2 linked regions of the Homo sapiens genome follow. The protein of the gene in region 1 purifies or fractionates together with the protein of each later gene. This does not show direct contact. Each region holds a gene or a part of one and is shown in the gene's direction. Other genes may lie near its edges.

What was found. Proteins that work in one complex are often made in the same cells at the same time.
Region 2: the proteins of NYAP1 (region 1) and ARHGAP26 purify together in Homo sapiens (affinity purification with western blotting, with the first as the bait; one study listed by BioGRID). This does not show direct contact.

The regions. Positions count from the first base shown.
Region 1 is NC_000007.14:100,482,157-100,487,756, forward strand, and holds the start of NYAP1 (neuronal tyrosine-phosphorylated phosphoinositide-3-kinase adapter 1), read left to right. Parts: upstream 1-1,770; 5' UTR 1,771-1,845; intron 1,846-3,071; 5' UTR 3,072-3,155; coding exon 3,156-3,223; intron 3,224-4,664; coding exon 4,665-5,026; intron 5,027-5,600. UniProt on the Homo sapiens protein: Activates PI3K and concomitantly recruits the WAVE1 complex to the close vicinity of PI3K and regulates neuronal morphogenesis.
Region 2 is NC_000005.10:142,776,332-142,781,382, forward strand, and holds part of ARHGAP26 (rho GTPase-activating protein 26), read left to right. Parts: intron 1-5,051. UniProt on the Homo sapiens protein: GTPase-activating protein for RHOA and CDC42. Facilitates mitochondrial quality control by promoting Parkin-mediated recruitment of autophagosomes to damaged mitochondria.

The DNA.
Region 1 (5,600 bases):
CATACTAAAGGTATAAATGTGAAATGGGTTTTAAGTGTTTTAATATTTCCCTCCCCTGGGAGCATTCTTAATAGCCTATAATATGTGGGACCTTTTACAATTTACAAGGCACTTTGGTATTATTTTACTACCCCTCCCCTTCCAAAGAATGGACTAAAGCCAGCTTGTCCAACCGCACGGGCAGCTTGTGGCCCAAGACAAATTGGTAAATTTTCTTAAAACGCCTAAGTTTTGGTTTTTGTTTTTGTTTTCGTTTTTTTTTTTTTTTTCTCTGAGACAAAGTCTCTCTCTCTCACCCAGGCTGGAGTGCAGTGGCCCGATCTGGGCTCACGTCAACCTCTGCCTTCCAGGTCAAGCGATTCTCCTGCCTTGGCCTCCCGAGTAGCTGGGATTACAGGCGCAGGCCACCATGCCCAGCTTATTTTTTCTATCTTTAGTAGACACGGGGTTTTGCCACGTTGGCCAGGCTGGTCTCAAACTTCTGATGTCAGGTGATCCACCAGCCTCGGCCTCACAAAGTGCTGGGATTTACAGGCGTGAGCCACCGCGCCCCGCCAGTGTTAAGAGTATTTTATGTGTGGCCCAAGACAAATTCTTCTTCCAATGTGGCCCAGGGAAGTTAAAAGAGTGGACATCCCCGGACTAAAGCGTCTCTCAGAGAGGTTGCACGATCTGCCTAAAGCCACACAGCAAGACTGCAAAGACGCTGCCATGGAAAGTAGCATTCGCAGGCTCCAGGGATCAGGCCGTGCCTATCTTTGCCGTGCCCATTTTCCAGCCCGTGGAAGGTACAACCGAGGTCTTCTCGAGCTGATTTACCCCCGCTGCAGAGCTGTGAGCCCAAGGGATTTCAGAGGGAGTTATTTCTAGGGGAGATAATGAGAAAAGAAAAGATAAATGAGAAAAGGGGAGGTCGAGGTCACGTCCCGTAGCGGCCCCCCGACAGTGCCAGGGTGGTAGCCGCGGTGGCCACACTCAGGTCGACCCTGGTCGTTGCGAGCGGCGCCGGGGGAGTCAAAGGTCACGAGAGGAGGACTCGGGCCACGGGGGCGGATAGCTTTGAGCCCAGACGGTGGAACGAGATCCGGGCACCCCCGGGAGGCTGCAGGGGGAGGCAGCCGATTCCCCCGCGAGCCAACTCAGGTGCTCTCCTGGCACCTGGGGGCGGTGGGGAAAGGGGGCGCGGCCGCCGGAGCACGCCCCCTGCTGGGCTGAGCCGCCGCCCGTCCCGTTCCCCACCCTCGGAGCCCCTCGGCCCGGAAAGCGGCACCCCCTGGCGGCCCCAGCGCCTCACTGCACCCCGGGCCCCGCAGCCGCAGCCTCGGCCCCGGACCGACGCTGGGTGCGGACCCGGGGCGCGCCGGGCGTACGGGTTGCACGGGGTGCACGGGGTACACGGTGCGGGGGCGTGGGCCCCAGGCTGCCGCTGGGGGGCGCCGCCGCACGCCGCTCCGCCGGGGCCGGGGAGACCGAACTCAGCACCGACCGGCCGGGCAGGGGGCGAGGGGCGGCGAGGAGCGGACGCCCAAAGACCGCGACGGGCTGGCGCCGGGCCCCCAGCGCCCCACGACCTTCCTCCGAATCTGCCCCCGCAGGCTCCGCGGCTCCCCCGCCCCGCGCCCCAGCCCCACGGCCCCGCGCCGCACGGCCGCTCCCGTTCCGTCCTTGGAGGGTGTGGAAGGGTGGGTTTGGGGCCGGGGGCGGGTCTGGGGGCGGACCCGGAGGCGGGGCTGTCTCTGCGGCAGGGCCCAGCTTCGCTCCCCCCGGTCTGTCTCTGTCTCTCCTCCTCCCTCCTCCTGCTCCGGGCGGAGCCCGGCATGGGGGGGCCGGCGCCCGGCAGGCCAGGTACGGTGATGGAGAACCTGGGGAGGCTTGGTGCAGGAAGGTTGGGGTGGGGGGACAAGGGACAGGGAGGATTGGCGGAGCGAAAGGCGGAGAAGCCCAGGGTAGCAGGACAAGGGGAAGGGGAGGGGTGCCAGGAACCTGGGGCCCTTGGATGGAGAAGGGGGATGAAGCAGGCCAGGTTTGGAACAGGGGAAGGGGGAGGACGGCTGTAAGGAGGGGCGCCTGGGAGGAGAAGTGAGGCTGAAGGCGAAAAGAAGAGTGTGGGTTTGGGGGAAGGAAAACCGGAGCAGGTATGGAGGCCGCAGCCCAGAAGGTAGCAGTGGGGCCAGACTGGAGCCCCCCGGGTGGGATTGAGGGGCGGGGACTGGAAGAGGAAAACCAGGGGGCCTCCCAAATCCTGGAGGAAGAAGAAGGTGATTGGGGCCATCAGCGAGGGAGGGAGGCAGAGACTAAACCATTGCTAAAGGGCCAGGGAGCCAGAATCGGGGTGGACCAAGGCCCAGGCCCGGGGAAGGACTGGAAGTGGGGGAAGGCAGGCAGTGGAGATAGATGGATGGGTGGTATTTTAGATACCCAACTCAGGGTGTCTCCCATCCTTCCTTCAGCGTCCCCACCCTGCCCTCATGAGATCCCCCTACAGCCCAAGATAGGGGGGAGAGTCTGACCATCTCCCCTTTTCCCAGTGGGGTGCAATGTACGCAAGTAGGCCCTGGGCATAACTCTGCCTGTAGGTGTGTCCAGTTCTGTGTAGCAGATTTGTGTGTGTCTGGAGGTCTGTGGGTGTGTCTGTGGGTGTTTATGTCTGTGTGCCTGTCTATCCCTAGGTTTCTGTTTACCTATGCCAATCTCTGCGTCTGGTCCTCTGTCTGTAGATGTGGGTCGGTGGCTCCGTGGTTTGTGTGTCTGAATGTGTACTTGTGTAGCTGAGGGGTTGCAGTCCGTTTGTGGGGCCTGTATGGGTGGTGGATCGGGATGTCTTTACACAAGAAGGGAATCTGTGTTGACCTGGTCTCTCCAGAGTGTGTATTTGGGGCTCTGAACACCTTTGTCGGGGTCTGTGTCTGTCTGTCTGTGGGTCCTCGAAGCTGTGTTGGGTTTTCTGTCTGTGTTTTCCTCTCTGAGGACCCGAGTCATGTCTCTTCTCCGTTTTCTCTCTTTCATTCATCCCTGGCCCCCACCCATCCCACCTTTCTTTTTTTTCCGTTCTCACCCACCCCGCCCGCCAGTGGATCCGGGACCCAGGGAGGGCCGCCCCCCGGGCCTGGTGGCACTGAGCAGGGCCCCCCAGCCCCCACCTCCTGCCCCACGAGATGAACCTCCTCTACCGAAAAACCAAGCTGGAGTGGAGGCAGCACAAGGAAGAGGAGGCCAAGAGGAGGTAAGGCTGCACCCCAGACTGCTCCCTTCCCTTCCGCACCTCTGCCTGCCCCCTCACTGGGCCACAGCCCTTCTCGGGGGCCGGCAGCCTTGTCATGAGTGAGCTCTCTGATCTCAGAGTCAGTACGGAATGGCCAGGATTGCACACACTGTCCTGGCCCAACTCCTGCTCTCCTGTGGGGGGGTTTACAGCCTAGGAGCACCCCTTTGGTTGTTCCCCATCCCCAGAGGCCCGAGTCACTCCTTCCTGACTCACCTCTGGCCTGTAGCCCTTCTCCTTTCTGCAAATTTGGGGCTGGCTGCGGGCTCTCCTGTCACCTGACCTTGGAAGGGGCAGGCCCCGCCTCTCTCCCAGGGTCTAGGGAAGGGGTCATTTCAGGGGCATCAGAGAACATCCACTTGGCCTCCTCCCAGTTTTCCCTGCTGGGGGAGGTGAGTGGTCAAGTGATGGGGTTGTGTGTGTGGTGGGCAGACATGCAGGCTGGGCCTTGCCAAAGAGCCAGGGCAGGGGACGACCTCCAGACCCCTGCAATCCCTGTCTGCCTCCCCGCTTGCCCTTCCAGGGACCTGGGGCCTGGCCTCTCCCATCCTTCTCTCCTTCTCCTCTTCTCTCCCATTGACTTCACAGCCACTTGGAGCCTGACTCACAGCCACCTCCCTTTTCCTTCCTCGCAACTGTGGAGTTTAATTCTTGTTGTTAATTAGATTAATCAGAGTGATCGCTGCAGCGATCTCTCCCTAATGAAGGGCTAGTAGACAGGGCCTTAATGAGTGCCCACCCCACACAGCTCTCCTCTCTTCCCTGCCAGCCGCCCCCCCAACCCTCTGCCACCCTCCACTCAGACAGAAGCTCAGGGACAGTGGAATGGAATGGGGGTGAGCCGGGGAGGCTGACAGAGAGAGAACAGCACCAGGGGAGAGGGAGGAAGAAGGATGGGCCAGGGAGGGAGGCTGCTCTGGTCCTGGAGGGGCACATCCTGCATCTGGGAGAGGAGGTGTGCCGTGGGGGCAGAGGTCACAGTGGCTGGGCAGGAGGGGTAACCAGAGGCCAGGTGTGGGCCACTGTGAGAGTGAGAGGGGCCAAGGAGCTGTGGGGGGCAGGCGTGTCCATCTGTGTTACCTGGGTTTGTATCTCTACCTCTGCACAAGGCTGTCCACACAGGTGCCCAGGCTGGGATCCGCCAGCCCCAGGGATGCTCCCCTGCAGGCATACTCACCCCTCTTCTCATCCCTGCCCCCAACTGCCTTGTGTTTTTAAAGCCCAAGATTCTGCCTGAAGCCCCTTCATTGGTGCCCTGGACCTTCTGGCAACCCTGTCCCCACCCAGGCTCCCGTCCTCTTCCCTGGGAAGCCACAGGGTTGCTGACACCTCTTGGGGTGGAGAAGGGGGATGCCCAGGTCCGAGGCCCTTCCTCCACTCCATCGTGGCCTTCTCTCCCCAGCTCCAGTAAGGAGGTGGCCCCCGCTGGCTCGGCTGGGCCCGCGGCCGGCCAGGGGCCTGGGGTCCGCGTGCGGGACATCGCCTCGCTGCGGCGCTCCCTCAGGATGGGTTTCATGACGATGCCCGCCTCCCAGGAGCACACCCCGCACCCCTGCCGCAGCGCCATGGCCCCACGCTCCCTCTCCTGCCACTCGGTGGGCAGCATGGACAGTGTCGGGGGTGGCCCTGGCGGGGCCAGTGGGGGCCTCACAGAGGACAGCAGCACCCGAAGACCCCCTGCCAAGCCCCGGAGACACCCCAGCACCAAGCTCAGCATGGTGGGGCCTGGGTCTGGGGCAGAGACGCCCCCCAGCAAGAAAGCAGGTGAGATACCCCCTATCTCTCCCTGGGGTGGAGCTGGGAGCTGGGAGGATCTATTCCACGCCCGGGGAGGCTTGCCGGGAGGGTTCATTCAGGGAAGAACCAAGGAAGTGGAAGATTCCATTCTCAAAAGGAATTGGGGGGGTCCTTTTGGATGGGCCTGAGATGAACCATTCAAGGGCAGGGGACACTCCCTGAAAAGTTCTTGAGAAAGGGGTGGTGGCCTCAGAGGGACAATGAAGGTAGGAGCTGCGAATTCTGGAGAATACGTTAGAAAGACTGAGGGCTGTGGGACAAGCCCCGTGGCTCACGCCCGTAATCTCAGCACTTTTTTTTTTTTGAGACAGAGTCTCGCTCTGTTGCCCAGGCAGGAGTGCAGTGGTGCGATCTCAGCTCACTGCATCCTCCGCCTCCCAGGTTCAAGCAGTTCTCCTGCCTCAGCCTCCCAGGTAGCTGGGATTACAGGCGTCCGTCACCACGCCCGGCTAATTTTTTGTATTTTTAGTAGAGACAGGGTTTCGTCTTGTTGGCCAGGCTGACAAGGCCAGGCTTGCTGGCCTCAGGTGATCCACCCACC
Region 2 (5,051 bases), on another chromosome or scaffold:
ATCCTAGTCCTGTTTTAGAACATTTTTAGCACCCCGAAAAGCTTTCTCATGCTCATTTGCAGGCACTGCATTTTTGCCTGAAGCCTCATACAACCACTGATCTACTACTTTCTGTCTCTATAGATTTCTCTTCCCTGAAAAATTAAGCTAAATGGAATCATATAATATGTAGTCTTATGCATCTGGCTTCTTTCACTAAGCATGCTGTGTTTGAGGCTCATCGTGTTGTAGCATGTATCAGTAGTTTGTTCCTTTTTATTGCTAGAAAATATTCCATTTTGTAAACCATAAGTTGTTTATCCATTCACCAGCTGATGATTTGGGTCATTTCCAGTTTTTTGCTCTTATGAATAATGCTGCTATGAATGTTTGCATACGTGTCTTCATGTGTATATATGTTTTCACTTCTAATTTCATTTTTTACCTAGGAGTAGAATTTTGCTGGGTTGTATGGTAAATTTATGTTTAAGTTTAATTTAAACTTGTGTTTATTTAAAAAAACCTACCATACTGTTTTCCATAACAGAAGCACCGTTTCACATTCCCACCAACAATGTATGAGGATTCTGATTTCTCCACATCCTCGCCAATACTTGTTGTTGTCTTTCTTTTTGATTGTAGCCACTCTAGTGGGTGTGAAGTGGTATCTCGTTGTGGTTTTAATTTGCATTATCCTGGTGACCAATGAGGATGAGCACCTTTTCATGTGTTTGTTGGCCATTGGTGCGTCATCTTTGCTGAAATGTCTATTCAGATCTTTTTTTTCCTTTACTTTGTCTCATAAAACTTTTGATGATTAAGTGAACAGCACTTAGTATATTTTCTCCATTTGCCCTCTTTTGGGGACTATTTGTTTCCATGTGCTTCAACCTTAGATGTATTTAACTGATCAGTTTCAGGATCTCAGGAATTAGGAAGTGGTTCTTATGAGGCTGTGGTTCAGATTTCTGCTCTTGTTAGGCCAGTGGGCATCGCTCTGGGCAGATGCCACACAGGCTGGACTTCCTAATTCTGGCCTGCATAAGCTAATGATCCAAGCCCTCTCAATGGACAAAATGAGAACCGGCCAAGGAAGAACTGTTATCACCATTGAGCTACTGGGGAAAGCAAGTTGTAAAGGGGACTTTGTTATCCTGTCAAGGTCATTGCATTTCTAAAAATTAGCCAGTGGAGGAATACTAACCTAGCAGTCAAAGTAGTTTTTCTAGATTTAAGTTTCTGAGTGAGCCTCGTTTTACCTTTTAAAATTATAACCCCTTCTGTTTCAAATTATATATTTTTTGCCATCAGAAGAAGAGTTTCGTTCAGGAAATACGGAGACCCTGCTCTGCCTTTACCATGTCCTCCAGAGCCCTAGACTAGAGTAATGGCTTTTTGGATGGAGGTAACCAATGTAGGAGTCATTAGCGGGGAGATTGAGTGGGATGTTTGGGGGCCAGTGGCGCGGCCAGTTGTGACTGTAGCAGAGTGAAGGCGAATGCACAAAGAGATAGGCCAGGGCAAGGTCATAGGGATCTTGAATTCTAGAAAGGACTTAGAGTTTTATTCTAAGTGTGATGGGCAGCCATGGAAGGCTGTGCCATGATCGTACTCATACTTTAAAAAGATTATGTAGGCAGCTGTGTAGAGACCAAGCGTAGTGGAGCAACAATGGAGGCAAGATGACCAGTAAGGAAGCTGTTGTAATAGTTGAGGTGAGAGATGATGGCACCGTGGGCTAGGGTGACAGCATCACAGATGGTGGTCAGAGGCTGGGTATTTTTGGAAGTAGAGCCCACAGGATTTGCTGCACAGCATATGGGCTATGAGAGAAAAGAAAGAAGTCTAGAATGATTCAGATATTTTTGGCCTGAGCAGTTATGTGAATGATGGTACTATTTGCTAAAATAGTTTGCTTGGGAAGGATTAGGTTTAGGGGTAAAATTAACAATATGAATGAATGACCTAATCTTATAATGCAAAGACAAAATATTATGACATGGATAGTTCCTGAATACATTCTCATGCAAGCATCAAAGAGTATAGACGTATACAGTGTAAAAGCACCCCCTTTTCCTAGCTAACAATCATTGTTAGCAGTTTGGTATGCATTTTTTCTTGTCCTTTTTCTGCGTGTTTTTTTCATAAATGGGATTATACTATAAGGATTATTTTGTGTTTTGCTTTTCGAGTTGATCATTTGTCTTGAAGACCTTCCATGTCAGTACATGCATGTAGTGCATTCTTTTTAATGACTGCAGAGAGCTTTATGTGGATATGCCATAGTTGGTATTTACTCAGTTTCCTGTTGAAGGATATTTGGATTGTCTCTGTTGTTCACTATTAGAAGGCGTGCTGCAGTGATTATTTGCACACCTGCTTTTGTGTGTGGATTCCAGCATTTCCCTGAGATGGATTCCTTCAAGTGGAATGGTTGCTGGCTCCAGTTTTTACAAGCCCTTTGACATCTGTTGTTTAGGTCCTTTGCATCCTTGTAGCCGGTTGATAATTTGGTGCTCCTTTGAGTATGTTAGATTGTTTCTGAAGCTTAATCTTTTGGTTAAATCAGAAGCATCCTTAACAGACCCTTCTGTTAGACACTGACACTGATTTTAAAACAACCAAGGGATAGAAAAAAAAAAAAAACTTAGTGTGTGTGTATGTGTGCCAGGGAAAGAGAGATGACAATTAATTGGATGTGTCCCTATTAGCCCTGGAACTGCTTGATATGCTTTCTGAGTGGCATGTTCTTATAGGTCAGATGGGAGATGGGATGGGGCTTTGCCCATATCTAAGAGTCTATTCTAACCTCCAGGCTCAGGGACTAGGAAGGAAATCATGTTTATTTAGGGTGAGAACAACAGCATTAGCAGCCAGAGGAATTTTTACAAATTATAGTGACTGGGGTTTACACATTTTTGTAGCACCTCAGAATGGAGAGAGAGGAAATGGTAAGGAAAACAGCTTGGCAGTGTGGGCCACGAGCTGTCATGGCATGTTTGTGTCTGGCTCATTTCACCTTGATTGGAAGGCACAGAATGCTGCCCTGGGTAAGCTGGAGACTGGGCAGTTTCCTGCTATATTTAGAAAGAGGAGATTCCTGGGGTTAGGGTGGTGTGTGTGTGTGTGTGTGTGTTTTCTTTGCCAGATAGACAAAGGTTTGAGGGGTTTGTGAATTCCACACCAAACTGTTAACTAGCTGGTTTCTCTGGGCCAAGCCAGTAGCTACTCTTTGACTCTTGCTGCTGCCACACAGCAAAAGCTCAAAAAACTCCTATTTTATATGGTTTGAAAAGATACCGCTGGTAAGTTTCAAAACTCATCTGATCTTGCTGTCACATCTGCTTTTAAGTTTACTGCAGGCTAATTTGAACACTTTGAAAATATGAACTGCCTCCTCCTCTGAGACTTCAGATAGATCTCCAAGCTGACTGAGTTGAACTTTGGCTGTTTCTGTGCCAAGGAGACTGTCAAACAGATAGGACCAAAGCCTTAGCAAATTCCTGACTGCGTATCTCGTTATCACACTTGTGGGTCAGGGGTAGACAATGAATATTAGTCGAACAAATAAAATAAGGCATTTTTACTTTAACTCATAGCTATGTTTCTTTTTAAAAGGGTTGCCTAAATAGGTAATACCTATAAGTTGTTCATAATTCAAAAGAGACAAAAGAGAATGTGAATATCCCTCCAATGCTTCCTGTCTCCTGATCCCCACTTCTTCCTCTGGAGGCATTTTATTGGTTTCTTTGGTATTTTTCAGATGTAATTTATGCATGTGCCAACAAATACACATACACATTGTGCCATATGTGCTGTTTTACCCTTTGCTTTTAATATATTAGATATTATTCTACATTGGTACATAGAGAGCTCACTCATTGTTAGATTGCATTGTATTCTATTGTATGAATTAAATATAGTGTATGTAACCATTCCCCTAATAATAAACATTTAGATTATTTCCAACCTTTCACCATTGCAAGTAATGTTGTTGTGAACATCCTGGCACCTCTGGCATGAGGCACATGAGTGACAAATTCCTAGAAATGAAACTGCTGGACCAAAGGGTATGTACATTTTTCATTTTAATAAGTATTTCATAACAGTGTTTCTGAAAAGTTCTAAGTGAACTGAATTTGATAAACCATGATTTTAGAGTAGGAAGGAAACTCACCATTTTAGACAGTTTATTACAGAATGGTCTCTGTAAATAAAACAATACTTAGAATTTTCTCCATTTTCCCCTTTCCAGTTTGTGTGTATTGTTAATTCTGGGATTAAAAGCCACAGCAAAAATCATTCCCTAAACTGAGACAGCTGTACCTAGAAATCAGTTGAATGTAGGATCCCAGAGACCTTGTTTGTGTTCCTAGTGATGGTGCTGTTGAGTTTTTATCTTTGTGCGGTGCGTGTAACATTCAGGAGATTCGGCAGGTTTGTTGAAGGAGGGCAGTCTTCTGCCTTCTGTGACCGGAGACCGTGACTCTGGTCTAGGGGACACGTTGCCTATCATAGAAGCTTCCCGGTGGGCACTGGAATTCCTGGGAGCTGGTGAGGGAGTCGGGAGTTTTGCATGACATCTCTCTCTGGCAGCTTCTCCTGCAGAGCTTAGCACTTTTCCCTGATAGAGGACAGGATCATGCCACATGTCCTCTGCCATCTCTGTTCCAGCTCCTGTTGATGTAGAAGGCTACATTGGCCAGGTTCCTGGCATGAAGCAGGCACAGTCCTTGTCTCCTAGATGCTCACTGTTTTGAGAGGAGGCAGGGAAACAGGCAGCCCACAGCACAAAGGGGAGATTGCTAGCAGTTTAAAAGGGCCTCTGGGGGAGGGAGCAGAGGCCTGTGGGAAAGGCAACTGAAGGCTTATCGAGCCCAAGGGGGCAGTGTGGTCACTAATGATCAGTCATGTGAAGGGTACCTCTGTTATTTTTGCCCCACCTCACCACCCTTTATTTACTTTGAAAAAAGTCTACTCATTACAAAATACATTTATTTCAAAAAGGAGCTTTTGAACCTGCATTCAGAAATTGCAAGTTTGATATGGTTAACTTTTTTTTTCTAAATATC